Regions from separate parts of the Homo sapiens genome. Here regions 2 and 3 are each linked to region 1. The links come from fine-mapping of genetic effects on gene expression. A gene starts in region 1. Each other region holds a variant in brackets. All regions are shown on one strand. Distances are between the middles of the regions. Region 1 holds the start of CLEC4A (C-type lectin domain family 4 member A). Region 2 has its middle 6.5 kb from the start of ZNF705A. Region 3 has its middle 20 kb from the start of CLEC4A.

The links. PIP is the estimated chance that this variant, and not a neighbour inherited with it, causes the effect.
Region 2: its variant is the best candidate, but not a certain one, in a credible set for the expression of CLEC4A in lung (TOPMed, PIP 0.68).
Region 3: its variant is the best candidate, but not a certain one, in a credible set for the expression of CLEC4A in lung (TOPMed, PIP 0.52).

What each region holds. Positions count from the first base shown.
Region 1 is chr12:8,119,106-8,127,674 of GRCh38, reverse strand. CLEC4A (C-type lectin domain family 4 member A) reads right to left here and starts at 4,058. Exons shown (of 6, transcript NM_016184.4): 1 at 3,715-4,058; 2 at 1,998-2,114. The coding sequence starts at 3,796. RefSeq lists an enhancer at 4,139-4,188.
Region 2 is chr12:8,146,196-8,154,764 of GRCh38, reverse strand. No RefSeq gene overlaps it. Among named protein-coding and RNA genes, the nearest start is that of ZNF705A, 6.5 kb to the left of the region's middle. The variant T/C (reference allele first, on the strand shown) is at 4,831.
Region 3 is chr12:8,099,079-8,107,638 of GRCh38, reverse strand. It overlaps a transcript of CLEC4A not described here. Among named protein-coding and RNA genes, the nearest start is that of CLEC4A, 20 kb to the left of the region's middle. The variant G/A (reference allele first, on the strand shown) is at 4,149.

The sequences.
Region 1 (8,569 bases):
TTTCTCAATTGAATTAATGAATTATCCTTCTAACCTCTCTTTCCCTCCAAATTTGTCCTCATTTATCCATTTTCCACACCTCTGTAAAAATCATGTTTCTATAAGTCCAATCCAATTATATCAATTCCCTGCTTAAAATTCTTCAATTTTCTCTATGACTGTGACATTGCAAAAATGGCCACAACTTTCAACATACCCTGTATCTACACTGCTTTGCAATGTGATTTTGCAGCTTCTTCAATCAAGAAATGTGGTCTATTTCTCCACCGCCTGGATCTGGGCTGCCTGTAAGACTTCTTTTGGCCAATAGAATGTGCAGGAGCAACTCTGCGCTAGTTCCAAGGTGAGATTTCAAAAGGCCTTGCTTACTTCCGCTCTCAGTCTTAAAAGCCTGCCAGTTGCCATGTGAACAAACCCAGGCTACCCTGATGAATGATAAGAGAAACGTGGCCAAATCTCTCCTGCCATTCCATCTAACATCCTGTTCCTCAGAAGCTAAGTTGCCTGTGGCCAGTACCCAACCACATATACATGAGTGAGTTCAGCCAGGACTGGGGAAATCTCCCAACTGACACCAGTCTCAATTGCCAAGACACAGATTTATGAGCTAAATAAATAGTTGCTGTTTTAATCCACTAAGTTTTAGATTGGCTTATTAACCAGCAAAAGATAATTGATAAAATAACCTTTAGGAGGGAAAAAATCCAAACTCTTTATCATGATATACAGCAGTCTTCATGATCTGAGTCCTGTTTCTTTCTGCCACCTACAACTTCATTTCTTAGTTCTTTACTTAGCACCATATGTTCCAGTCATGCATACTTACGTTTCCCCAAATTCCATGCTCTCTCATATCTCTAGGTCATTCTTGGTACACACAGCTCTAGATGTCACCTCCTCCGGAAAGCCTACCTCAGCCTCTTGCACTTATTATACTTCTTAACTGTACAACACTTACCATACAATGTTATAACCACTGGTTCATTTTATCATTCTCTAAATTTCTTGAGACCAGGGGCTGTGGCTCTGTCTTGACTCTCTGTCTGGCACAGTGCCTGACATACAGTAGATGGACAATACTTATGAAATGACCAAAGAAATTAATAAAGAATCTACCTAAATGTATACTGCTTTTTATGCCTTTTAAAAATTTTGAGCCAGGCGTAGTGACTCATGCCTGTAATCCCAGCACGTTAGGAGGCTGAGGTAGGCAGACTGCTTGAGCCCAGGAGTTCAGGACAAGGCCAGGAAACATGAGAAAACCCTGTCTCTACTAAAAATACAAAAAAAAAAAAAAAAAAAATTAGCTGAGCATAGTGATGCACACCTGTAATCCCAGCTACTTGGGAGGCTGGGGTGGGAGAATCGCTTGAACCTGGGAGGTGGAGGTTGCAGTGAGCCAAGATTGCACCAATGCACTCCAGCCTGGGTGACAGAACCAGGGGGAATAAAACTCAACAAATGCTGAAAGCCAAAGATACGCAGCAATCCACCTAATTTGCAAAATTGACTTTTAGATCCCACACAGTCTTGAGCAGGGCAGGAATAATCAGAGTAAAAGCCAGTGGAGAACTCTTCCTGAAATATTTCTTCCCATCTCCTTGTTGTCTACCTGCTCATCCCAAAACATAAATGTCTGTGCATTCAAATCAGACTGGCCTGATAAATGCTACCAAGGAAACATAGATTTGTCCTCACTTACATAGTGTCTAGTATAGAGATGATGCCCCATAGATTTCACTCTACAACACAAATACATACACCCACATTTATGCTTCAGTTTCTCTAAATGAGAAGGGATTCCATTATTTTTACAGGACAGTAACTAAATCCAAATAAAGAGCAAAATTCACAGTGGATTCCCATGAATTATGTCTCCCCAGAGAAAATTTCATTTCAGATTTCTGGATAAGCTCATTTTCAAAAGTCAGTTTTTAAAGGATACCCTCTGTTCATGGACAGCAGATATTGCTTATTGGTTCAGTTGGCATACTTACTGACAAAAGCAATAAAGAATGAGATTGCCAATAGCAGGAAAAATATCAACAGTGAGGCACAAAGCAGCTTGGGGAATCCGGTATTACTTTTGTGAGGGGCAGTCCTCTCCTTGGAAGCTGAAGAAGAAGCCAAATTAGTTTTATCAGTAATAAGTTTGGTCTTTACTTCCTCTTCTTCCTCCTCCTCTTTCTCTCTCTTTTCTTGGATGACACACAGTTACTAACGGTATGACATTTGAAATCACATGAGAATAGGAATAGAAAGGATATAATAATATTCACTGTAGAAACTTTAAAAAATACATAAAAGTACGAATTCCTACAATTGAGGATAACTGTTATGCCATATAACTTATAATATACCATAATATTTTGGTATATATCTTTCTAGCAATTTTTTGAATGTATATATACACATATGCAAATTTTCCCACGATTGACATACCATAAATACTGATTTCTGACCTATTATTTTCCTTTACACTATATCATGAACATTTTTCATACCATTATATTTTCTTCTTTAACACTCCTTATTATGGTTGCATAGTATTTCATCATATATTTAAATAATGGTTTCCAACTTTAAATAATGCTATAGCAAATAAATCTTTATAATCATTCCTCATCACATGTTTAGAATAAAGTCAGTCTTTTTAGTTACCATCTCATGGTTAGGAATCACTTTCTTCGAGTTATGATATTTTGTCAAATGATGGGGGAAAAAAATTCAGTATTATATAATATGATTACATTTTTAGTAAAATACATATGCACATTATATGTATTTGTATGTGGAAGGATATTCACTAAATTGCAAATTATGATTTTCTCTAGATGATAAGAGTAATTATAATTCAAATATCTGTGTACCTCTGGTTAATTTTTTCTACAATGAACATTAATACTTGTGTAATAAAGAAATTATATAAAGTTTTTAAGGAGAAAAAATTTCCCTAAGTGCTCTCCACACCTTCACAGAGGTATTTTAGAAAGCGTAACTATAGTCCTGACCCCTTCCCCCATAGTTTCTTGTACTCTATATACATTCTTTTCTCTCTTTTGCTCTATACTTGAGATATCACACATGACACCCAAATCACCTTGCATCTACTCCCAAACGTAACAGAGTCTGTCTCAGAGATGCAACACGCAATAGGTTCTCTGATTTCAGAAAAAGTTTCCTGGAGATTTAAGAGACTTTCTTTGTAGACTTTCTAGTCTTTCATTTGCAAAGGCCTTTTGTTACATTTCCATCCATTACCAACAAATATACCCTCACCACTGTCCACCCAAACTCTTTCCCTCTAACTGATCAAAAAACAAATCTCACAAATTCATCAGGACCCCCTGCATCTGGATTGATGGTTTCAGAAGCTGTACTCAATCTCTTAACCCCAGCCCCACTCAGCCTCAGAAAACACAGGGGCATCAGAGCACTCGCCTTAGCTCAGAACTGGAGTGGATTTCTCTCACCTCTGTTTCAGTAAGCAGAGTGGAGGCTGAAGAGAGTGGCACAAAATCTTTTCTTCTCCACAATACAAATGTACACCCCGTAATGCGTATCTGCAGGCCACTCAATCTTCTGGGACTCTTGTGTTTCCCAGACATACTCAATCAGACAACCAGCAACTGAAAACACCTATGCCTTATTCATAAACCCTCTCCTCATCCTTCACCTCGTCATTCACTCTGACCCCTAGAAAATGATCTTTACCTGCAGAAGAGGCTGTGTTGATGCCTGAGGACTTGAATTCATTTTTGAACCTCACTTCAGCATAAGTGATTTCCGAAGTCATAATGGGAAGAGAGCTTCTGCTTTCTTCAGAAAATCTGTTTCAGATCTTTCTTAAAACATCTTATAAACAGGAACCAAACATGGTGGTAAATTACCTCCTTCCTTTCACTCAACTAGTGGAGAGCAGAGGCACCAGATAGGCACATATCCTCAAGAGGGGTCTCATGAGAACTAAGAACCACAATAAAAACTAAAAACCGCAGTTCACAGAAGCCCTTTCCTCAGGACCAGTATAGTGAGAATCACAGCCTTGAAACAAATGCAAGCAAATGCAATAAAAGTGGGAACTCAAAGGGTTGCGGAAAGAGGAAGAAAAATAAAAGAAGAACCAAGCACTTAGAGTCTTTCTGGAGAACTGCGTTTTTCACCAGTAAAAAATACAATTTCTGTGCTTCCACACACAAATGTAATTACTTTTGACCAAACATCCTGAACATAGACTTATGTTGCATTCATCTCATCAATTTTGACTGATCAGGCAACTTGTTAGTACCACATTCTAAGAGTATCATTGACACAAAACTCACATATCAGCCTCCCCACCTTCACGAATTAGTTTCCTGTAGCATGGTGGGGATGGCAAAGTTTAAACCCCATGTCTTCTGAAGCTGTTCCTCCATGCTCTCTGTGTTTCCTTGTTGGTAACTAACTCTATCAAAAGTCTGCATTCATCTTGCTAGAATCTCCAGAAAGCAGCTCCCTTTACTGGATGTTGGAGGAGAGGGAAGGCCAGCCTTTATTCCATGCTTCCCTAACCTTTTAATCGCCACATCACCTCCAATATATATGACTATTTTTTAACAGTTAGGAGAATTATATAGAATCACAGTATAGAAGGGGATAAACTTAAACAAAGTACTAAATATGACTTTTTCCAAAGGCCTAGAAGAAAACACTCCAAATATTAAATCCTTCATGTGGAATCTCTCCATAGACATGCTCCCAGCTCACACCTGGATTCTCTGCCCTCAACTCTCCGCAAATGATCCTCCTTTTAATCTCCCCCAGCTGATTCCTTCTCCTGCATAACACACATGCATACATGCATGCACACACACACAAACACACACGTCTATATTTCTATATTATTTCTATATCTAAATATATTGAACACCATGAGTTCACACTAATTCCTCTAATTCCAATCTAACACCACAAGTTTCATTCTAGTTTTCTCCCTTCCCACATTCCTAACTCCTTTCTGTGACACTAAGAAACCTGCTTTCATTGTCTTTCACTTATTCCTTATTTGATCAATCTCCTGGATGTCGTCAATCTCCCACCTGCTAAGATGTCCCTCTCTTCCTAGTTGGGCTCTGACTCCCCAGTCCAAGCCACCATCCCCTGCGCGGATGCCCTCCCTCCTCACTCTGAGAGTGCCGGCAAAGGGCCAGCCCACTCCCCACCCCCATGAACATCCCCCAACAAACATCCCCCTCACCCTGCCAAGGCTCTGACTCCCTGTGCTAGGCCATTCCTCTGCAGGAAAGCCCTCCTCACTCTGCTTGCACTCTGATTCCTGATGCTGGTCCCCTAGTCACCACTTAGACCCCCTTAGGTTCTAATGCTCCACACAAGGTCACCCTATGGGTGGAAGCCCTCCTCACCCTGGAGGGGTCTGATTTCCTCACCGGGCTATCCTACCACATGGACCACCTCCTTATCCTGCTAAGTTTCTGAAACCCACACCAAGTCCTCCCTCTGCATAGAAGCTTTCTTCATCCTGCTTGGGCTCTGACACTCCATGCAGGTCCTCCATCCCCCAGCAATAATGTCCATCTTACCCTACTTAGGATCTGAGTTCCCTCACTGGGCTACCCCACCACATGGACACCCTCCTTATCATGCTTGGTCTCTGAAACCACACCAGGTCTACCCTCTGCAAGGATGCTCTCTCTCCTCATCCTGCTTAAGTGCTGAGTCCCAACCCCAACTGGGCCAACACTAGGCATGGGTGCCCTCCTCACCTCTCCCACATGCTGACATACATACCAGGCTGGCCCTAGAGTACTCTGCTCAGCCATTTGCGACTCTGACTCCCTATAGAAGGTAACCTCATACATGGATGCCCTCCTCACCCTGCTTGCACTCCAACTCACTGCACCTGACTATCCCACCACATAGATGCCTTCTTTACCTCTCAGACTCTGACCTCTCACATCAGGCTACCCCTACTATGGACACCCTCCTCAATCTTATCCTCTGACACCCTGCACTGGGCCATTGCCAGGAGTGGACATCTCCTCGCTCTGGTTCCCCATGCCAGGACACTTTCCCACCCCTAAGGGATGTTCTTCTCACTCTGCTTGGGCTCCAGAACCACTGTCAAGCCAATACCCTGCATAGTCACCCTTCTCACCCTGCTAAAGCTCTCCCCCTGTGCCAGGCCACTGCTGCTCTCCCAGCCACCTCACCATAGACACCTATCTTGCTACTGCTTTATTTAGAATCAAATTATTTAGTAAGAAAAGGGAAAGGGGAATGACAAAGCATAAGGGAAGGATAAGGGAATTTTAAGTTCTCCACAAATTAATGATTGGGCCTAACCAGCACATGCACGTAGACAGGTATACATGCACACATATTCCCTGAAATAACAATCATTGATTCTCAGAGTCTTTACAATCTAAGCTCATAATTAGAAAGCAAACCATATTCCTAAAACTATAGCTCTCTCCCTGGAATAAGTCACATTATAACTGGATTACACCGTATCACCAACAACCCCAAAATCCAAGTGGCTTACAACAACAAACATGTATTTCTCACTTACATTACACTTGTGCTTAGGGCCACCTTGGAGTTGACTGCAACTCTGCTTGGCCCCTCTCCAAGTGTTTTCTCATTCTGGAAGCTGAGATCACAGAATAGCTCCTTGTAAGCTGAACCATGTAGTAGCATCCTTTATTCAGATAAGGTGTACGTTGTATTTGCTCTGATTCTGTTGGCCAATGCAAGTTACCTGAACAAACCTGCAAGTGAGACAGGGAAATATACTTTGTCTACAGAAAGACATGTCAAGGGTATCAAAGTTTAATCCTTTCACAAAGGAGAACACAGACATTTGGAAACAATAATAGAATCTATCCCCTTATCCCTTTAAATTATTTATCCAAGAGATCTCTTGGGCAGTGATCTCCAAAATGGGGCACAAGTACCTTAGGCAGTATAAAAGAGGATCTGCTAAGGCACAGAGAAAAAAACACTAAAACATCTATTTACATTTATTTAAAGTTTTAAGGAAGATAAGCTTTACTAGTATTGATTGCATGTCATGTGTGGTATGGTACCTATTATGAGGGAAGACTGGAAGTTCCACAACTCTGAGAGGCTGACAGTGTGCCTTCACTTGTTCGTTCACTCTCTGAATATTGCATCATGTTGCAGTTAACCTAGGTAATAAAGAATTTGCCTGGATTTTGTTCCCACTTCCTGGAGGTAGCCTTTAAATCCTTGGAATTTTCCAAATAATAGGATTGTCTTTGTTATTCATGGTGGGCCCGTATATCTCATGCTAATGAGGTCTCTCATGATGGGCTCTAAGATAGTTTATGCTAAGAAGGTGATTCAGGGTGGGGCTGGCCATGCCGGAAAGACCAGTCATGTGATTGGCGCATTGAAGCCCTGAGCCATGTTATATCAGCCCAGGTGGGGAAGGGAAGCTAGAGACTGAGTTCAACTTGTGACCAATGGTTCAATCAATCATGCCTACATAATGGACCCCAGTAAAAACTCTGGGCACTGAAGCTCCCCTGATTGGCAATACTCTGTGTATTATCACACATTAAAGTTCTAAGAAAGTGATATATCAATGGGGTCAATGGAAATTTCCATTTAGGACCCTCTCAGTCCTTACCCCATGCATCTCTCCCTCTGGCTGGTTCTGATTTGTATCCTTTTGCTATAATAAAACTGCAATCATAAGCATGGCACTATCCTGAGTTCAGTGAGTCATTCTAATAAATCATAAAACCTGAAGGGATCATGGGAAACCCCAAATTTGTAGTCAGTTGATCAGGAGTGAGGACACCCCTGGGAACCCCTGAACTTGTGGCTGGTATCTGAAGTAATGGCAGTCTTATGAAGGGCGTGCCCTCAACCTGTGAAATTTGGCCTAAGTCCAGGTAGTTGATATCAGAAGTCAATTTAATAGCTCAGTATTGTTAATTTCATGAAAACAAGATATTCGTTAGACTATTTATATTGATATGATGGCAAGTGACCATTCTGTTCACTGTGAAATTAATCTCAGTATTTAGAAGTAAGGATGGAGTAAATAGGGCACTTTTATTTTTAAAGATTTTTTACTGTTTGATATTTTATAAGCATGTATTTCTTTCATAATAAAAAGACACAGGCTAGGCATGGTAGCTCATGCCTGTAATCCCAGCACTTTGGGAGGCCAAGGCGGGTGGATCACCTAAGGTCAGGGGATCGAGACCAGCCTGACCAACATGGTGAAACCCCATCACTACTAAAAATACAAAATTAGCCAGGCGTGGTGGTGCATGCCTATAAGCCCAGACACTAGGGAGGCTGAGGCAGGAGAACCACTTGAACCTGGGAGGCAGAAGTTGCAGTGAACTGAGATCGCACCATTGCACTCCAGCCTGGGCAACAGTAGCGAAGCTCTGTCTCAGAAAACAAAAGCAAACAAATAAAAAATCTATCTTATTTTCACCAAAGATGAGACTAAGACCATTTTTGCAGCAAGGCTAGCTAATTCAGCTGGTATTAGCTTAGTGTTTTTGAGGTTCATCCATGTTATAGCTCA
Region 2 (8,569 bases), 27 kb before region 1:
CTCTGTGGTTATTCTTCTAGAATCACTGCATGTACAACTCCAAAGTGAGGCAGACAGGAACCACCTGTGTGGGTTTCTTTGAAGCTCAAATCTCATTCTTTATCTTGACAAAAATACAAGCAAAAGAACATTCAAAAATTTAAAGAATGTTGACTCTCCAAATATGTTCAAATAATTCTCATGATGTTTTATGTGAAGTTTCTCTTTTTGATTATCATGGTTGATCATGCAAAAAACAAGCATTTAAATGGCATAAAGATAATTTGTTTATATGCCTTCAAAATATAAACAAATATTCAATATCACAAAAATCTATTGCTATTTCTATATACTTTTCTTAATGATAAGTAGTCATTCGAAGTTGTGTTAATAAGTTAATGTCTTAAGAAGAAACACAAGAGAGAGCTGAATAGTAACAGCTCTGGTCTGCAGCTCCCAGTGAGACCAACAGAGAAGGCGGGTGATTTCTGCATTTCCAACTGAGGCACCTGGCTCATCTCATTGGGACTAGTTAGACAGTGGGTGCAGCCTGTGGAGGGTGAGCAGAAGCAGGGTGGGGTGTTGCCTCACCCAGGAAGCACAGGGATCGGGGAAGTCCCTCCCCTAGCCGGGTGTAGCCATGAGGGACTGTGCCATGAAGAACAGTGCTATCAGGCCCAGATACTATGCTTTTCCCATGGTATTCACAACCCACAGACCAGGAGATTCCCTCAGGTGCCTACACCACCAGGACCCTGGGTTTCGAGTGCAAAACTGGGCAGCCATTTGGGCAGACACCAAGGTAGCTGCAGAAGTCTTTGGGTTTTGTTTTATTTTGTTTTGTTTTGTTTTTATACCCCAGTGGCACCTGGAATGCCAGCAAGACAGAACCATTCACTCCCTTGGAAATGGGGCTGAAGCCAGAGAGCCAATTGGTCTCATCAGTGGGTCCCAACCCCATGGAGCCTAGCAAGCTAAGATCCACTGGCTTGAAATTCAACCTGCCAGCACAGCAGTCTGAAGTTGACCTGGGATGCTTGAGCTTCACTGAGGGGGAAAAGGGTGTCTGCCATTACTGAGGCTTGAGTACGCAGTTTTCCCCTCACAATGTAAACAAAGCCACCAGGAATTTGGAACTGGGTGAAGCCCATCACAGCTCCACAAAGCCAGAATATAAATGACTAAATGGAGCTGAAAAATACAGCACGAGAACTTCGTGAAGCATACGCAAGTATCAATAGCCAAATCTATCAAGTGGAAAAAAAGGATATCAGAGATTGAAGGTCAACTTAATAAAATAAAGTGTGAACACAAGATTAGAGAAAAAAGAATGCAAAGGAATAAAAAAAGCCTCCAAGAAATATGGGATTATGTGAAAAGACCAAACCTATGTTTGATTGGTATACCTGAAAGTGATGGGGAGAATGGAACTAAGTTGGAAAACTACTTCAGGATATTATCCAGGAGAACTTCCCCAACCTAACAAGGCAGGCCAACATTCAAATTCAGGAAATACAGAGAACACCACAAAGATACTCTGCAAGAAGAGCAACCCCAAGAGAGATATTTGTCAGATTCATAAAGGTTGAAATGAAAGAAAAAATGTTAAGAGCAGTCAGAGAGAAAGGTCAGGTTACCCACAAAGGGAAGCCCATCAGAATAACAGCAGATCTCTCTGCAGAAACCTACAAAGCAGAAGAGAGTGAGGGCCAATATTCAACATTTCTAAAGAAAAGAATTTTCAACGTGGAATATCATATCCAGCCAACCTAAGTTTCACAAGCAAAGGAGAAATAAAATCTTTCCACACTTGCAAATGATAAAGGATTTTGTCACTACCAGTCCTGTCTTACGAGAGCTACTAAGAAAGCACTGAATATGGAAAGGAAAAGCCGGTACCAGCCACTGCAAAAACATACCAAAATGTAAAGACCATCAACACTATGAAGAAACTGCATCAAATAATGTGCAAAATAACCAACTAGCATCATAATGACAGGATCAAATTTACACATGACAATGTTAACTTTAAATGTAAATGGGCTGAATGTCCCAATTAAAAGACACAGACTGGCAAATTGGATGAAAAGTCAAGACCTATTGGTGTGCTGTATTCAGGAGACCCATCTCACGTGCAAAGACAAACATAGGTTCAAAATAAAGGGATGGAAGAATATTTACCAAGCAAATGGAAAGCAAAAAAAAAAGCAGGGGTTAAAATCCTAGTGTCTGATAAAACAGACTTTAAATCAACAAAGATTTATAGGACAAAAAAGGGCATTACATAATGGTAAAGGGATCAATGCAACAAGAAGAGCTAACTATCCTAAATATATATGCACCCAATACAGGAGCACCCAGATTCATAAAGCAAGTTGTTAGAGACCTACAGAGAGATTTAGACTCCCATACAATAATACTGAGAGACTTCAACACCCCACTGTCAATATTAGTCAGATCAATGAGACAGAAAATTAACAAGGATATACAGGACTTGAACTCAGCTCTGGACCAAGCAAACCTAATAGACGTCTACAGAACTCTCCACCTCAAATCAATAGAATATACATTCTTCTCAGCACCACATCACACTTATTCTAAAATTGACCACATAATTGGAAGTAAAACACTCCTCAGCAAATGCAAAAGGATGGAAATCATAACGAACAGTCTCTCAGACCACAGTGCAATCAAATTAGAACTCAGGATTAAGAAACTCACTCAAAACCACATAATTACATGGAAACTGAACAACCTGCTCCTGAATGACTACTGGATAAACAACAAAATGAAGGCAGAAATACAGAAGTTCTTTGAAACCAATGAGAACAAAAACACAACGTACCAGAATCTCTGGGACACATTTAAAGCAGTGTGTAGAGGGAAATTTATAGCCCTAAATGCCCACAAGAGAAAGCAGGATAGGTCTAAAATCGACACCCTAACATCACAATTAAAAGAATTAGAGAAGCAAGAGCAAACAAATTCAAAAGGTAGCAGAAGACAAAAAATAACTAAGATCAGAGCAGAACTGAAGGAGACAGAGACACGAAAAACCCTTCAAAAAAATAATTGAATCCAGGAGCTGGCTTTTTGAAAAGATCAACAAAATAGACTGCTAGCCAGACTAATAAAGAAGAAAAGAGAGGAATCAAATAGACACAATAAAAATTGGTAAAGGGGATATCACCACTGATCCCACAGAAATACAAACTACTATGAGAGAATACTATAAACACCTCTACATGAATAAACTAGAAAATCTATAAGAAATGGATAGACTCCTGGACACATACACATTCCCAAGTCTAAACCAGGAAGCAGTCAAATTCCTGAATAGACCAATAACAAGTTCTGAAAGTGAGGCAGTAATTAATAGTCTACCAACCAAAAAAAGTCCACAACCAGATGGATTCACAGCCGAATTCTACCAAAGGTACAAGGAGGAGCTACTACCATTCCTTCTGAAACTATTCCAAACAACAGAAAAAGAGGGAATCCTCCCTAACTCATTTTACTAGGCTAGCATCATCCTGATGCCAAAACCTGGCAGAAACACAATAAGAAAAGAAAATTTCAGGCCAATATCCCTGATGAACATCGATGTGAAAATCCTCAGTAAAATACTGGCAAACCAAATCCAGCAGCACATCAAAAAGCTTATCCACACAATCAAGTTGGCTTCATCCCTAGGATGCAAGGCTGGTTCAACATATGCAAATCAATAAACGTGATCCATCACATAAACAGAACCAAAGACAAAAACCAGATGATTATCTCAATATATGCAGAAAAGGCTTTCAACAAAATTCAACACAACTTCATTCTAAAAACTCTCAATAAACTAGGCATTGATGGAATGTATCTCAAAATAATAAGAGCTATTTATGAAAAACCCACAGCCAATGTCATACTGAATGGGCAAAAGCTGGAAGCATTCCCTATGAAAACCGGCACAACACAAGGATGCCCTCTCTCACCACTCCTATTTAACACAGTATTAGAAGTTCTAGCCAGGGTAGTCAGGCAAGAGAAAGAAATAAAAGGTATTCAGATAGGAAAAGGGAAGTCAAATTGTCTCTGTTTGCAGATGACATGACTGTACATTTAGAAAACACCACCGTTACAGCCCAAAATCTCCTTAAGCTGATAAGCAACTTCAACAGAGTCTCAGGATACAAAATCAATGTGCAAAAATCACAAGCATTCCTATACACCAATAACACAAACAGAGAGCCAAATCATGAATGAACTCCCATTCACAATTGCTACAAAGAGGATAAAATACCTAGGAATACAACTTACAAGGGATGTGAAGGACCTCTTCAAGGAGAACTATAAACCACTGCTCAAGAAAATAAGAGAGGACACAAACAAATGTAAAAACATTCCAAGCTCATGGATAGGAGGAATCAATATTGTGAAAATGGTCATATTGCCCAAGGTAATTTATAGATTCAGTGCTATCCCCATCAAGCTACCACTGACTTTCTTCACAGAATTGGAAAAAAACTACTTTAAATTTCATATGGAACAAAAAACGAGCCCACATAGCCAAGACAATCCTAAGCAAAAAGAACAAAGCTGGAGGCATCACGCTGCCTGACTTCAAACTATACTACAAGACTACAGTAACTGAAACAGCATGATACTGGCACCAAAATAGATATATAGACCAATGGAACAGAACAGAGGCCTCAGAAATAACATCACATATCTATAACCATCTGATCTTTGATGAACCGGACAAAAACAAGAAATGGGGAAAGGATTCCTTATTTAATAAATGGTGTTGGGAAACTGGCTAGCCATATGCAGAAAACTGAAACTGGACCCCTTCCTTACATCTTA[T/C]ACAAAAATTAACTCAAGATGGATTAAAGACTTAAATGTAAGACCTAAAACCATAAAAACCCTGAGGAAAACCTAGGCAATACCATTCAGGACATAGGCATGGGCAAGGACTTCATGACTAAAACACCAAAAGCAATGGCAACAAAAGACAAAATTGACAAATGGGATCTCATTAAGCTAAAGAGCTTCTGCACAGCAAAAGAAACCACCATCAGAGTGAACAGGCAACCTACAGAATGGGAGAAAATTTTTGCAATCTATCCATCTGACAAAGGACTAATATCCAGAATCTACAAAGAACTTAAACAAACTTACAAGAAAAAAACAAACAACCCCATCAATAAGTGGGCAAAGGATATGAACAGACACTTCTCAAAAGGAGACATTTATGCATCCAACAAACATATGACAAAAAGCTCATCATCACTGGTCATCAGAGAAATGCGAATCAAAGCCACAGTGAGATACCATCTCACACCAATTAGAATGGCAATTATTAAAAAGTCAGGAAACAACAGGTGCTGGAGAGGATATGGAGAAATAGGAACACTTTTACACTGTTGGTGGGAGAGTAAACTAGTACAAACATTGTAGAAGACAGTGTGGCAATTCCTCAAGGATCCAGAACTAGAAATACCATTTGACCCAGCCATCCCATTACTGGGTATATACCCAAAGCATTATAAATCATGCTACTATAAAGACACATGCACACGTATGTTTATTGTGGCACTATTCACAATAGCAAAGACTTGGAACCAACCCAAATGTCCATCAGTGATAGACTGGATTAAGAAAATGTGGCACATATACACCATGGAATACTATGCAGCCATAAAAAAAGGATGAGTTCATGTCCTTTGCATGGACATGGATGCAGCTGGAAACCATCCTTCTGAGCAAACTATCACAAGGACGGAAAACCAAACACCACATGTTCTCACTCATAGGTGGGAATTGAATAATGAGAACACTTGGACACAAAAAGTTCGAAGAACTTTTTGATTTCTGCCTTAATGTCATTATTTACCCAAGAGTCATTCAGGAGCAGGTTGTTCAATTTCCATGTAGTTGTGTGGTTTTGAGTGAGTTTCTTAATCTTTAGTTCTAATTTGTGCTGTGGTCTGAGAGACTGTTACTATTTCAGTTCTTTTGCATTTTCTGAGGGGTGATTTACTTCCAATTATGTGATCAATTTTACAGTAAGTGCCATGTGGCGCTGAGAAGAATGTATATTCTGTTGTTTTGGGATGGAGAGTTCTGTAGACATCTATCAGGTCCACCTGATCCAGAGCTGAGTTCAAATCCTGAATATCTTTGTTAAATTTCTGCCTTGTTCTGTCTAATATTGACAGTGGAGGGTTAAAGTCTCCCACTACTATTGTGTGGGAGTCTAAGTCTCTTTGTAGGTATCTAAGAACTTGTTTTATTAATCTGGATGCTCTGTATTGGGTGCATATATGTTTAGGATAGTTAACTCTTCTTGTTGAATTGACCCCTTTACTATTATGTAATGCCCTTCTTTGTCTCTTTTGACTTTTGTTGGTTTAAAGTCTGTTTTGTCAGAAACTAAGATTAGAATCCCTGCTTTTTTCTGTTTCCCATTTGCTTGGTAAATTTTTCTCCATCCTTTTATTTTGAGTCTATGTGTGTCTTTGCATATTAGATGGTTCTGTTGAATACAGCACACCAATGGATCTTCACTCTTTATCTAGCTTGCCATTCTGTGTCTTTTAATTGGGTCATTTGGCCCATTTACATTTAAAGTTAATATTGTTATGTGTGAATTTCATCCTATCATCATGATGTTAGCTGGTTATTTTGCAGACTTGTTTATGTAGTTGCTTCATAGGATCATTGGTCTGTGTACTTCAATGTGTTTTTGTAGTGGCTGGTAATGCTTTTTCCTTTCCATGTTTAGTGCTTCCTTCAGGATCTCTCGCAAGGCAGGCCTGGTGGTGATGAATTTCCTCAGCATTTACTTGTCTGAAAAGGATTTTATTTCTCCTTCATTTATAAAGCTTGGTTTTGCTGAATATGAAATTCTCAGTTCAAAATTGTTTTCTTTAATAATGTTGAATATTGGCCCCCAATCTCTCCTGGCTTCTAGGATTTCTATTGAGAGGTCTGCTGTTAGTCTGATGGGCTTCCCTTTATAGGTGACTTGGCCTTTCTCTCTGGCTACCCTTAACATATTTTCCTTCATTTCTACCTTGGAGAATCTGATGATTATGTGTCTTTGGGTTGATCTTCTTGTGGAGTATCTTACTGGGTTCCTCTGTATTTCCTGAATTTGCATGTTGGCCTGTCTTGTTAGGTAAGGGAAGTTCTCCTGGATGATATCCTGAAGTGTGTTTTCCAACTTTGTTTCATTCTCCCTGCGTCTTTCGGGTATCCCTATCAGTCGTAGGTTCAGTCTTTTAACATAATCCCATAGTTGTCGGAGGTTTTGTTTGTTTCTTTTCATCCTTTTTTCTCTAACCTTGTCTACCTGCCTTATTTCCACAGAATTGTCTTCAAGTTCTGATATCCTTTCATCCACTTGTTCTATACAGCTATTGATACTTGTGTTTGCATTGTGAAGTTCTCATGTTGTGTTTTTCAGCTCCATTGAGTCATTTGTGTTCCTCTCTAAACTGGTTATTTTGGTTAACAGCTCCTGTAATGTTTTATCATTATTAGCTTCTTTGCAACGAATTAGAACATACTCCTTTAGCTCAGTCAAGTTCATTATTACCCATCTTCTGAAGCCCGTTTCTGTCAATTCATTCATCTCAGCCTCAGCTCAGTTCTGAGCCCTTGCTGGAGACATGTTGCGATCATTTAGACACTCTGGTTTTTTGAGTTTTTAGCACTTTTGCATTGATTCTTTCTCATTTTCATAGGTATATCTACCTTTGATCTTTGAGGCTGCTGATCTTTGGATGAGGGTTTTGTGGGGTCTTTTTTGTTAATGTTGTTGTTGTTGCTTTCTGTTTGTTTTTCTTTTAGCAGTCATGCCCCTCTTTCCCACGGCTGCTATGATTTCCTGGGGGTCCACTCCAGACCCTATCCACCTGGTTCCCTCCCACCCCTGGAGATGTCACCAGTAGAGGCTGCAGAACAGCAAAGATGGCAGTCTGCTCCTTCCTCTGGGAGCTCTGTCCCAGAGGAACACTGACCCCATGCCAGCCAGAATGCTCCTGTAGGAGGTGTCTGGAGACTCCTGTTGGGACATTTCACCTAGTCAGGAGGAGCAGGATCAGGGACCCACTTAAATAAGCAGTCTGGCTGCCTCTTGGTGGAGCGTGTGTGCTAAACTGGGAGGAATCCTCCTCGTCCAGACTGTCCTGATTCTCCAGAGCCAGGAGGCAGAAAAGACTAAGACTGTTGATCCATGATACCACAACCGCCCCTCCTCCTAGGAGTTCCTCTCAGGGATATCAGTGTTCTGTCCATAAACCCCTGGCTGGGGATGCTGAAATTCCCACAAGGAGGCCCCGCCTGGTGAGTTGGACTGGATTGATGTCCCGCTTAACGAAGCAGTCTGGCCACGAACTGTCCTAGTCACTGTGCTGCGCTGTAGGGAATTGCTCCCTGTCCAAACCGCCCAGTCTCGCTGGGAGGGGTGGCAGAGGAAAACGGCCAACTGGAGCCGCAGTGATGGCAGCTGCCCCTCCTCCTGCAGAACTCCGTCTTCTTAGGCAGTCTCCAGCCTGCTGCACTGGCCGGGAGGGATTCCAAGCCAGTGGGTTTTAGC
Region 3 (8,560 bases), 20 kb after region 1:
AAATGGACAAATTCTTGGAAACATGCAACCTCCCAAGATTGACCCAGGAAGAAATTGAATCCCTGAACAGATCAATAACAAGTTCTGAAACTGAATCAGTAATAAAAAGCCTACCAACCAGAAAAGGCCCAGGACCAGGTGGATTCACAGCCAAATTCTACTGGATGTATAAAGAAGAGGTTCCTGCTGAACTATTCCTACTGAAACTGTTCCAAAAATTTGAGGAGGAAGGACTCATCGCTAACTGATTCTCTGAAGCCAGTATCATCCTGATTCCAAAACCTGGCAGAGACAGAATAAAAAAGGAAACCAGGTCAATATCCTTGATGAGCATAGATGCAAAAATCATCAACAAAATACAAGCAAACCAAATCCAGTAGCACATCAAAAAGTTAATCCACCATTATCAAGCAGGCTTTATCTCTGGGATGCAAGGTTGGTTCAACATACACAAATCCATGAATGTAATTCACCACATAAAGAAAACTAAAAACAAAAGCCACACAATCATCTAAATAGATGCAAAAAAAGGCTTTTGATAAAATTCAACATCTCTTCATGTTAAAAACCCTCAACACACTAGGCATTGAAGGAATATACCACAAAATAATAAGAACCATCTATGACAGACCCACAGCCAACATCATACTGAATGGGCAAAAGCTGGAAGCATTCTCCTTGAGAACTGGAACAAGACACGGATACCTACTCTCACCATTCCTATGCAACATAGTACTGGAAGTTCTAGGCAGGACAATCAGGCGAGAGAAAGAAATAAAAGGTATCCAAATAGTAACAGAGGAAATCAAATCATCTGTTTGCAGATGAGATGATTCTATACCTAGAAAACCCACAGTCTCTGCCCAAAAGCTTCTAGATCTGATAAACAACTTCAGTAAAGTTTCAAGATAGAAAATCAGTGTACAAAAATCCAACGTCCAAGCTGAGAGGCAAATCAAAAATGTAATTCCATTCAAAATGCCACAAAAAATAATCATAAAATAAAATACCTCGGAATACAGCTAACCAGGGAGGTAAAAGATCTCTACAGCAAGTATTACAAAACACTGCTCAAAGAAATCAGAGATGACACAAGCAAATGGAAAAATATTCCATGCTCATGGATAAGAAGAATCAATATTGTTAAAATGGCCATACTGCCCAAAGCAATTTATAGATTTGATGCTATTCCTATCAAACTACCAATGACATTCTTCACAGAATTTTTTTAAAACTATTCTAAAATTCATATGGAACCAAAAAAGAGCTCAAATAGCCAGGGCAATCCTGAGCAAAAAGAACAAAGCTGGAGGCATTGTGTCGCCTGACTTCAAACTATACTACAAGGCTACAATAACCAAAACAGCATGGTACTGGTACAAAAACAGACACATAGACCAATGTAACAGAATAGAGAGTCCAGAAATAAAGCTGCACACCTACAACCATCTTATCTTTGACAAAGTTGACAAAAACAAGCAATGAGGAAAGGACTCCCTATTCAATAAATGGTGCTGGGATAACTAGCTAGCGATATGCAGAAGATTGAAACTGGACCCCTTCCTTATACCGCATACAAAAATCAACTCAAGAGGGATTAAAGACTTAAATATAAAACATAAAACTATAAAAACCCTGAAAGATAACCTAGGAAATATCATTCTGGACATAGGAATGGGCAAAGATTTCATAAAGAATATGCCAAAACCAATTATGACAAAAACAAAAACTGACAAATGAAACCAAATTAAACTAAAGAGCTTCTGGACAGCAAAATAAACTATTCACAGAGTAAACAGACAACCAACAGAATGGGAGAATATATTTGTAAACTATGCATCTGACGAAGATCTGATATCCAGAATCTATAAACAGCAAATTAACAAGCAAAAAACAAACAACCCTTTAAAAAGTGGGCAAAGGACAAGAACAGGCACTTTTCAAAAGAAGACACATGGCCAACAAGCATATGAAAAATTGCTCAACATCAGCCGGGCACGGTGGCTCATGCCTGTAATCCCAGTACTTTGGGAGGCTGAGGCGGGTGGATCATGAGGTCGGGAGTTTGAGACCAGCCTGGCCAAGATGGTGAAACCCCGTCTCTACTAAAAATACAAAAAACTTAGCCAGCCGTGGTGGCACACACCTGTAGTCCCAGCTACTTGGGAGGCTGAGGCAGGAGAATTGCTTGAACCTGGGAGGTGGAGGTTGCAGTGAGCCGAGATCGTGCCATTGCACTCCAGCCTGGGTGACAAGAGCGAAACTCCATCTTAAAAAAAAAAAAAAAGAAAAGAAAAATTGCTCAACATCACTAATCATTAGAGAAACACAAATCAAAACCACAATAAGATACCATCTCACACCAGTCAGAATGGCTATTATGAAAAAGTCAAAATAACAGCTGTTGATGAGGCTGCAGGAAAAAGGGAACACTTATACACTGCTGGTGGGAACATAAATTAGTTCAGCCATTGTAGAAAGTAGCGTGGTGATTTCTCAAAGAACTTAGAACTACCATTCAACCCAGTAATCCCATTATTGGGTATATACCCAAAGGAATATAAATCATTCTACCATAAAGACACATGTATGCCGCATACGTATGTTCACTGAAGCACTATTCACAATAGCAAAGTCGTGGAATCAACCTAAATGCCCATCAATGGTAGACTGGATAAAGAAAATGTGGTATATATACACTATGGAATACTATGCAGCCATAAAAAAAGAAAAAGAACATGTCCTTGGCAGCAACATAGATAGAGCTGGAGGCCATAAACCTAAGTGAACTAATGCAGGAATAGGAAACCAAATACCACATGTTCTCACGTGTGAATGAGATCTAAACATTGCATACATATGGACACAAAGAAGGGAACAACAGACATTGGGTCCCTGAGTGGGGAGGGGGAGAAGGGAGAGGATTGAAAAACTACCTATCAAGTACTATGCTTATTACCCAGGCGACAAAATAATCTGTATATCCAACCCCCATGACATGCAATTTACCTATATAATAAACCTGCATATATACCTCTGAATCTAAAATAGAAGTTTTTTAAAAAAAGAAAGAAAAGGTGCAGGGAAACATCAAAGATATGGTGGAGAAGGCAGGGATGGTTTGATTGTTTCTTGAAGAGAATCAACTGTCCTGTATTAGGATTCATGGAGAAGCCAGCCGTAGGCTTTCGTATGCACAGAAGCACCCAAATGGCTTGATTTGTAATTATGACCACAGAAACCAATTTATTTGCAAGGCATAAAGTACTTGTTTGCCATCCTAAATACAGAGGAAAAATGGGGAAAATGCACTGGAATGAAAAAAGGAAAATGGAATTTAATTTATTCTGAGGTGGCTTACAATTCAAGGTAAGACCAAGTATTTGTCACAACTGGTGTATCTCATCTAGAAAACATTTAAGGTAATGGACTGGCCTTTCTAAAATGTACTGACCTAAAAAAAAAAAAAAATGAGATTTTCTGCCACTATGGCAAAGCATATAAGGAATACTTAAGTCATGTAGCCAGGAGCAACCCAAATGAAAATGAGTAAAATACAGAAAACACTCAACTTACCAACTTCTAGTCCCTCCTCACTGAAATCACTGTTAATTCCACAAGTACTTCATGAGCATGTACTATCTAGAAAGGTGTATGGGAAGTACTGCAAGTACATAAAAATGAAGACATACATGGTCTTTATATTCAAAGAGCTTAAAACAAGTGAGGAAGAGAATTTCAACAGCAACACTCCCCACCCCTTGCCCCCTCAAATAAACAGATCACCTTTCAGATTGGAAGGATAGGTAAACATTTCATGAAGTAGTATTTGGGCGAGCATTACACAATGGGAAGGACCTCAACAGGCAGGTATAAAAGGGAAGGTATTCTAGGCAGAAAAAATTTTAATTTAGCAAGCACTCAATACTTGTGGCATATGAAAAACAACTAGTGGGGCTGGGTGCAGTGGCTCACGCCTGTAATCCCAGTACTGGGGACGCCAAGGCAGAGGGATCATGAGGTCAGGAGATCAAGACCATCCTGGCTAACATGGTGAAACCCTGTCTCTACTAAAAATACAAAAAATTAGCCAGGCGTGGTGGCGTGCCCCTGTAGTCCCAGCTACTCGGGAGGCTGAGGCAGAAGCC[G/A]GTGTGAAGCCGGGAGGCAAAGCTTGCAGTGAGCCGAGATCATGCCACTGCCCTCCAGCCTGGGCGACAGAGTGAGACTCCGTCTAAAAAAAAAAAAAAAAAAAAAAAAAAAAACAACAGAAAGAAACAAAGAAACAACTAGTAGTTCTTAAGTTTGTTAAAGCACATTGTGAGTCAATGGGAAAACTGAGTTGAAGATGAAATTATATTTTGGACTTTATAAGCAAAGAAGAATTATTAAAGGCAATTAATAGGAGAGTAAAAAACATGAGCAGAGCTTTGTTTCACAAACATTACTTTGGGGTTAACATGTAAGCTGAATTAGAACTAAAAAAGCCATTGGCAAGCAGACTGCCTAGGAGGTTATCAGAATGGAGGAAGTGAGGAGTAATACAGGCTCACATTATAACAAGACAAGTAGTATCAAATATAATTAAGGGGAGTTGAGCTAGAAAATTGATTGTCCACATTTTTTTTCCCAAACAAAAACTTAAGGTCTAAGATATACCTCTGTCAATAGCAGTGCCTCAAAATCTCAGTAATGATAAGAAAAGACGCAGTTCAGGAAGTCTCTTAAGTCCTCCTACAGGAAGGCAAAAGCGGGAGGTATATCAGAATCTCTGAAGAAAGCAGTATGTGTTACTTTTTACATATACATATATATATCTTTTTTCCAGCTTTATTGAGGTATGGTTGACAAATAAAAATTATATATATTTAGAATATACAATGTGATATTTTAATATATGTATACATTGTGAAATGATTACAATTAGGCTAATAAACGTATCCATTACCTCACGTAGTTACTTGTGTGTGTGGTGAGAACACTTGAGATCTACTCTCTTAGCAAATTTCAGGTATGCATTATTATTAACTATAGTTACCATCCTGTACATCAGGTCTCGGTGCTTATTCATCTTATAGCTGAAGGTTTGTACCCTTTGACCATTATCTTCCTTCTTCCCTGACCTCCTAGCCTGGGTAACCATGATTCTACTGGGTTTCTGTGAGTTTAACTTTTTCTAGATTCCACTTGTAAGTGAGATCATGCATTATTTATCCGTCTGGCTTATTTCATTTAGTGTCTTCTGCAAACAAAGACAATTTTATTTCTTCCTTTCTGATTTGAATGCCTCTTATTTCTTTTTCTTGCCTGATTGCTCTGGCTAAGTCTTCCAGCACTATGTTGAATAGAAGTAGTGAGTGGGCATCCTTGTCTTTTTCCTAAATTAGAGGAAAAGCTTTCAGTTTTTCACCACGGACAATAATGTTAGTTCTGGGCTTGTGATATATGGCCTTTATTGTGTTGAAGTAAGTTCTTTCTATATCTAAATTGTAGGGTATTTATCACAAAAGAATGTTGAATTTAGTTAAATGCTTTTTCTGCATCTATTGAGATGATATGGCCTTTGTCCTTCATTCTGTTAAGACAGTTTATCACATTTGATTTGTGTGTGTTGAACCATCCTTGCATCCAAGGGATAAGTCCCACTTGATCATGGTGTATAATCTTTTAACAGGCTCTATTAAATATACTAGCCAAATTCAGTTGGCTAGTATTTTGTTGAGGATTTTGCATCTGTGTTTATCAGGGATACTGGGATGTAATTTTCTTGTAGTGTCCTTATCTGGCTTTGGTATCAGGGTAATGCTGACCCTGTAAAATGAATTTGAAATTATTCCCTCCTCTTCAATTTTCTGGAAGAGTTTGAGAAGGATTGGTATTAGTTCTTTCTTTTTAATGTAGGAGAAAAGGCATATAAATTTCATTTATTTCTGCTCTTTTTTTTTTTTTTTTTTTTGAGATGGAGTCTCACTCTGTCACCCAGGCTGGAGTGCAATGGCACAGTCTCGGCTCAGTGCAACCTCCGCCTCCTGGATTCAAGCAATTCTCCCGCCTCAGCCTCCCGAGTAGCTGGGACTACAGGCGCGTGCCACCACACCCAGCTAATTTTTGTATTTTTAGGAAAGACAGGGTTTCACTATGTTGGCCAGGCTCGTCTCGAACTCCTGACCTCGTGATCCACCTGCCTCGGCTTCCCAAAGTGCTGGGATTACAGGCGTGAGCCACTGTGCCTGGCCTGTTACTTCTTTCTTTCTGCTAACTTTAGGCTTTGGCTAGTTCCTGTAGGTGTAACATTAGCTTGTTTGAGATCTTTCTTTTTTCTTAATGGAGGTATAAACTTCCCTTTTAGAACTACTTTTGCTGCATCCCATAAATTTTGATATGCTGTGTTTCCACTTTAATTTGTCTCAAGATATTTTTTTCTTTTTTGATTCTTTGACCCATCGATTGTTCAGGAAACTTTTTAATTTCCACATGTTTGTGAATGTTCTGGTTTTCATCCTGTTATTGATTTCTAATTTCAGACTATTATAGTCAAAAGATACTCAATATGATTTCAATCTTAAATTTGTTAAGACTTGTTTTGTGACCAAACATATTTATACTGGAGAACATTCCACGTGCACTTGAGAAGCATATGTATTCTGCTGCTGTTGAATAAATGTTGTGTATATGTCTCTTAGGCCCATATTGTCTGAAGAGCAGCTCAAGTTCAATGTTTCCTCTTTGATTTTCTGTCTGATCTATCCATTGTTGAAAGTGGGGTATTCTATTGCTGTCTATTTCCCTCTTCAAGTCTGTTAAGAGGGCTGTTCTGCCATTCTTTTGTTCCTTTACTTTCTTAATAAACTTGCTTTCACTTTTAAAAAAAATCTGTTATTTGCTTTATATATTTTGATGCTCCAATCATCTTGATGAATTTACCTCTTTGGGCCAGGCACAATGGCTCACACCTGTAATCCCAGCACTTTGGGAGGCTGAGGTGGGTGGATCACTTGAGGTCTGTAATTCAAGACCAGCCTGGCCAACACGGTGAAAACCCATCTCTACTAAAAATACAAAAATCAGCCGGGCGTGGTGGTACATGCCTGTAGTCCCAGCTTCAGGAGGCTGAGGCAGGAGAATCACTTGAACCCAGGAGGCAGAGGTTGCAGTGAGCTGAGATCATACCACTGCACTCCAGCCTGGGCAAGAGGGAGATTCTGTCTCAAAGAAAAAAAAAAAAGAATTTACCTCTTCAACGTTTATGTAATGACCGTGTCTCTTGCTCTTGTTATAGCTTTTGACTTAAAGTCTATTTTGTCTGAAATACATACAGTATTCCCCCCTTATCCTGAGGGAATACATTCCAAGATCCCCCTTGGATGCCTGAAACCACAGATGGTACTGAACCCTATATACATTATGTTTTCTCCTATATATACACCTATGATAAAGTTAAATTTATAAATTAGGCACAGCAAGAGATTAACAATAAGTAATAATAAAATAGAATAAATATAACAATATGCCAGAGTCACCACTCTTGTGCTTTGGGGCCACTATTAAGTAAAATAAGGGTTAACTGAATTTGTACAAGCATTGCAATACCACAACAATCTGATAACTGAGAGGACTATCAAGTGTCAAATAGGTAGGTAATGTATATAGAATGGACACATTGGACAAAAGGATGATTCACATCCAGGGCAGGGCAAAGGAATATGGTGTGAGATTTCATCACACTACTCAACTGTGTGCCACTATTTTTTTTTTTTTTTTTTTTGAGACGGAGTCTCGCTCTGTCGCCCAGGCTGGAGTGCAGTGGCGCGATCTCGGCTCACTGCAAGCTCCGCCTCCCAGCTTCACGCCATTCTGCCTCAGCCTTCCGAATAGCTGGGACTACAGGTGCCCGCCACCACGCCCGGCTAATTTTTTCTATTTTTTAGTAGAGACGGGGTTTCACCATGTTAGCCAGGATGGTCTCGATCTCCTGACCTCATGATCCACCCGCCTCGGACTCCCAAAGTGCTGGGATTACAGGGGTGAGCCACCGCGCCCGGCCCCCAGTGTGCCACTTTTAAACTTATGAATAATTTTTGTAATTTTCCAGTTAGTATTTTCAAAGCACAGTTGACTGCAGGTAACTGAAAGCACAGAAAACAAAACCTCAGATAAGGAGGGACTATATAGTAATATAGCTACCCCTGCCCTCTTTTGGTTTCCATTTGCATTAAATATCTGTCTCCATGCCTAACTTTCAGTCTCTATGTGTCCTTAAAGGTGAAGTGATGCTCTTGTAGGCAGGATACAGTTGAGTCTTGTTTTTTTAATTCATTTAGCCACTCTGTCTTTTGATTGGAGAATGTAATCCATTTTGCATTCAAAATAATCATTAATAGGTAAGGACTTACTGCTGCCATTTTTCAAATTGTTTTTTGATTGTTTTGTGGGCCCTTTGTTCCTTTCTTCCTCTCTTGCTCTATTCCTTTGTTATTTGATGATTTTCTATAGTCCTTTGATTGTTCTCTTTATCTTTTGTGTATCTACTATAGTTTTTGCTTTGTGGTTACCATGAGGTTTA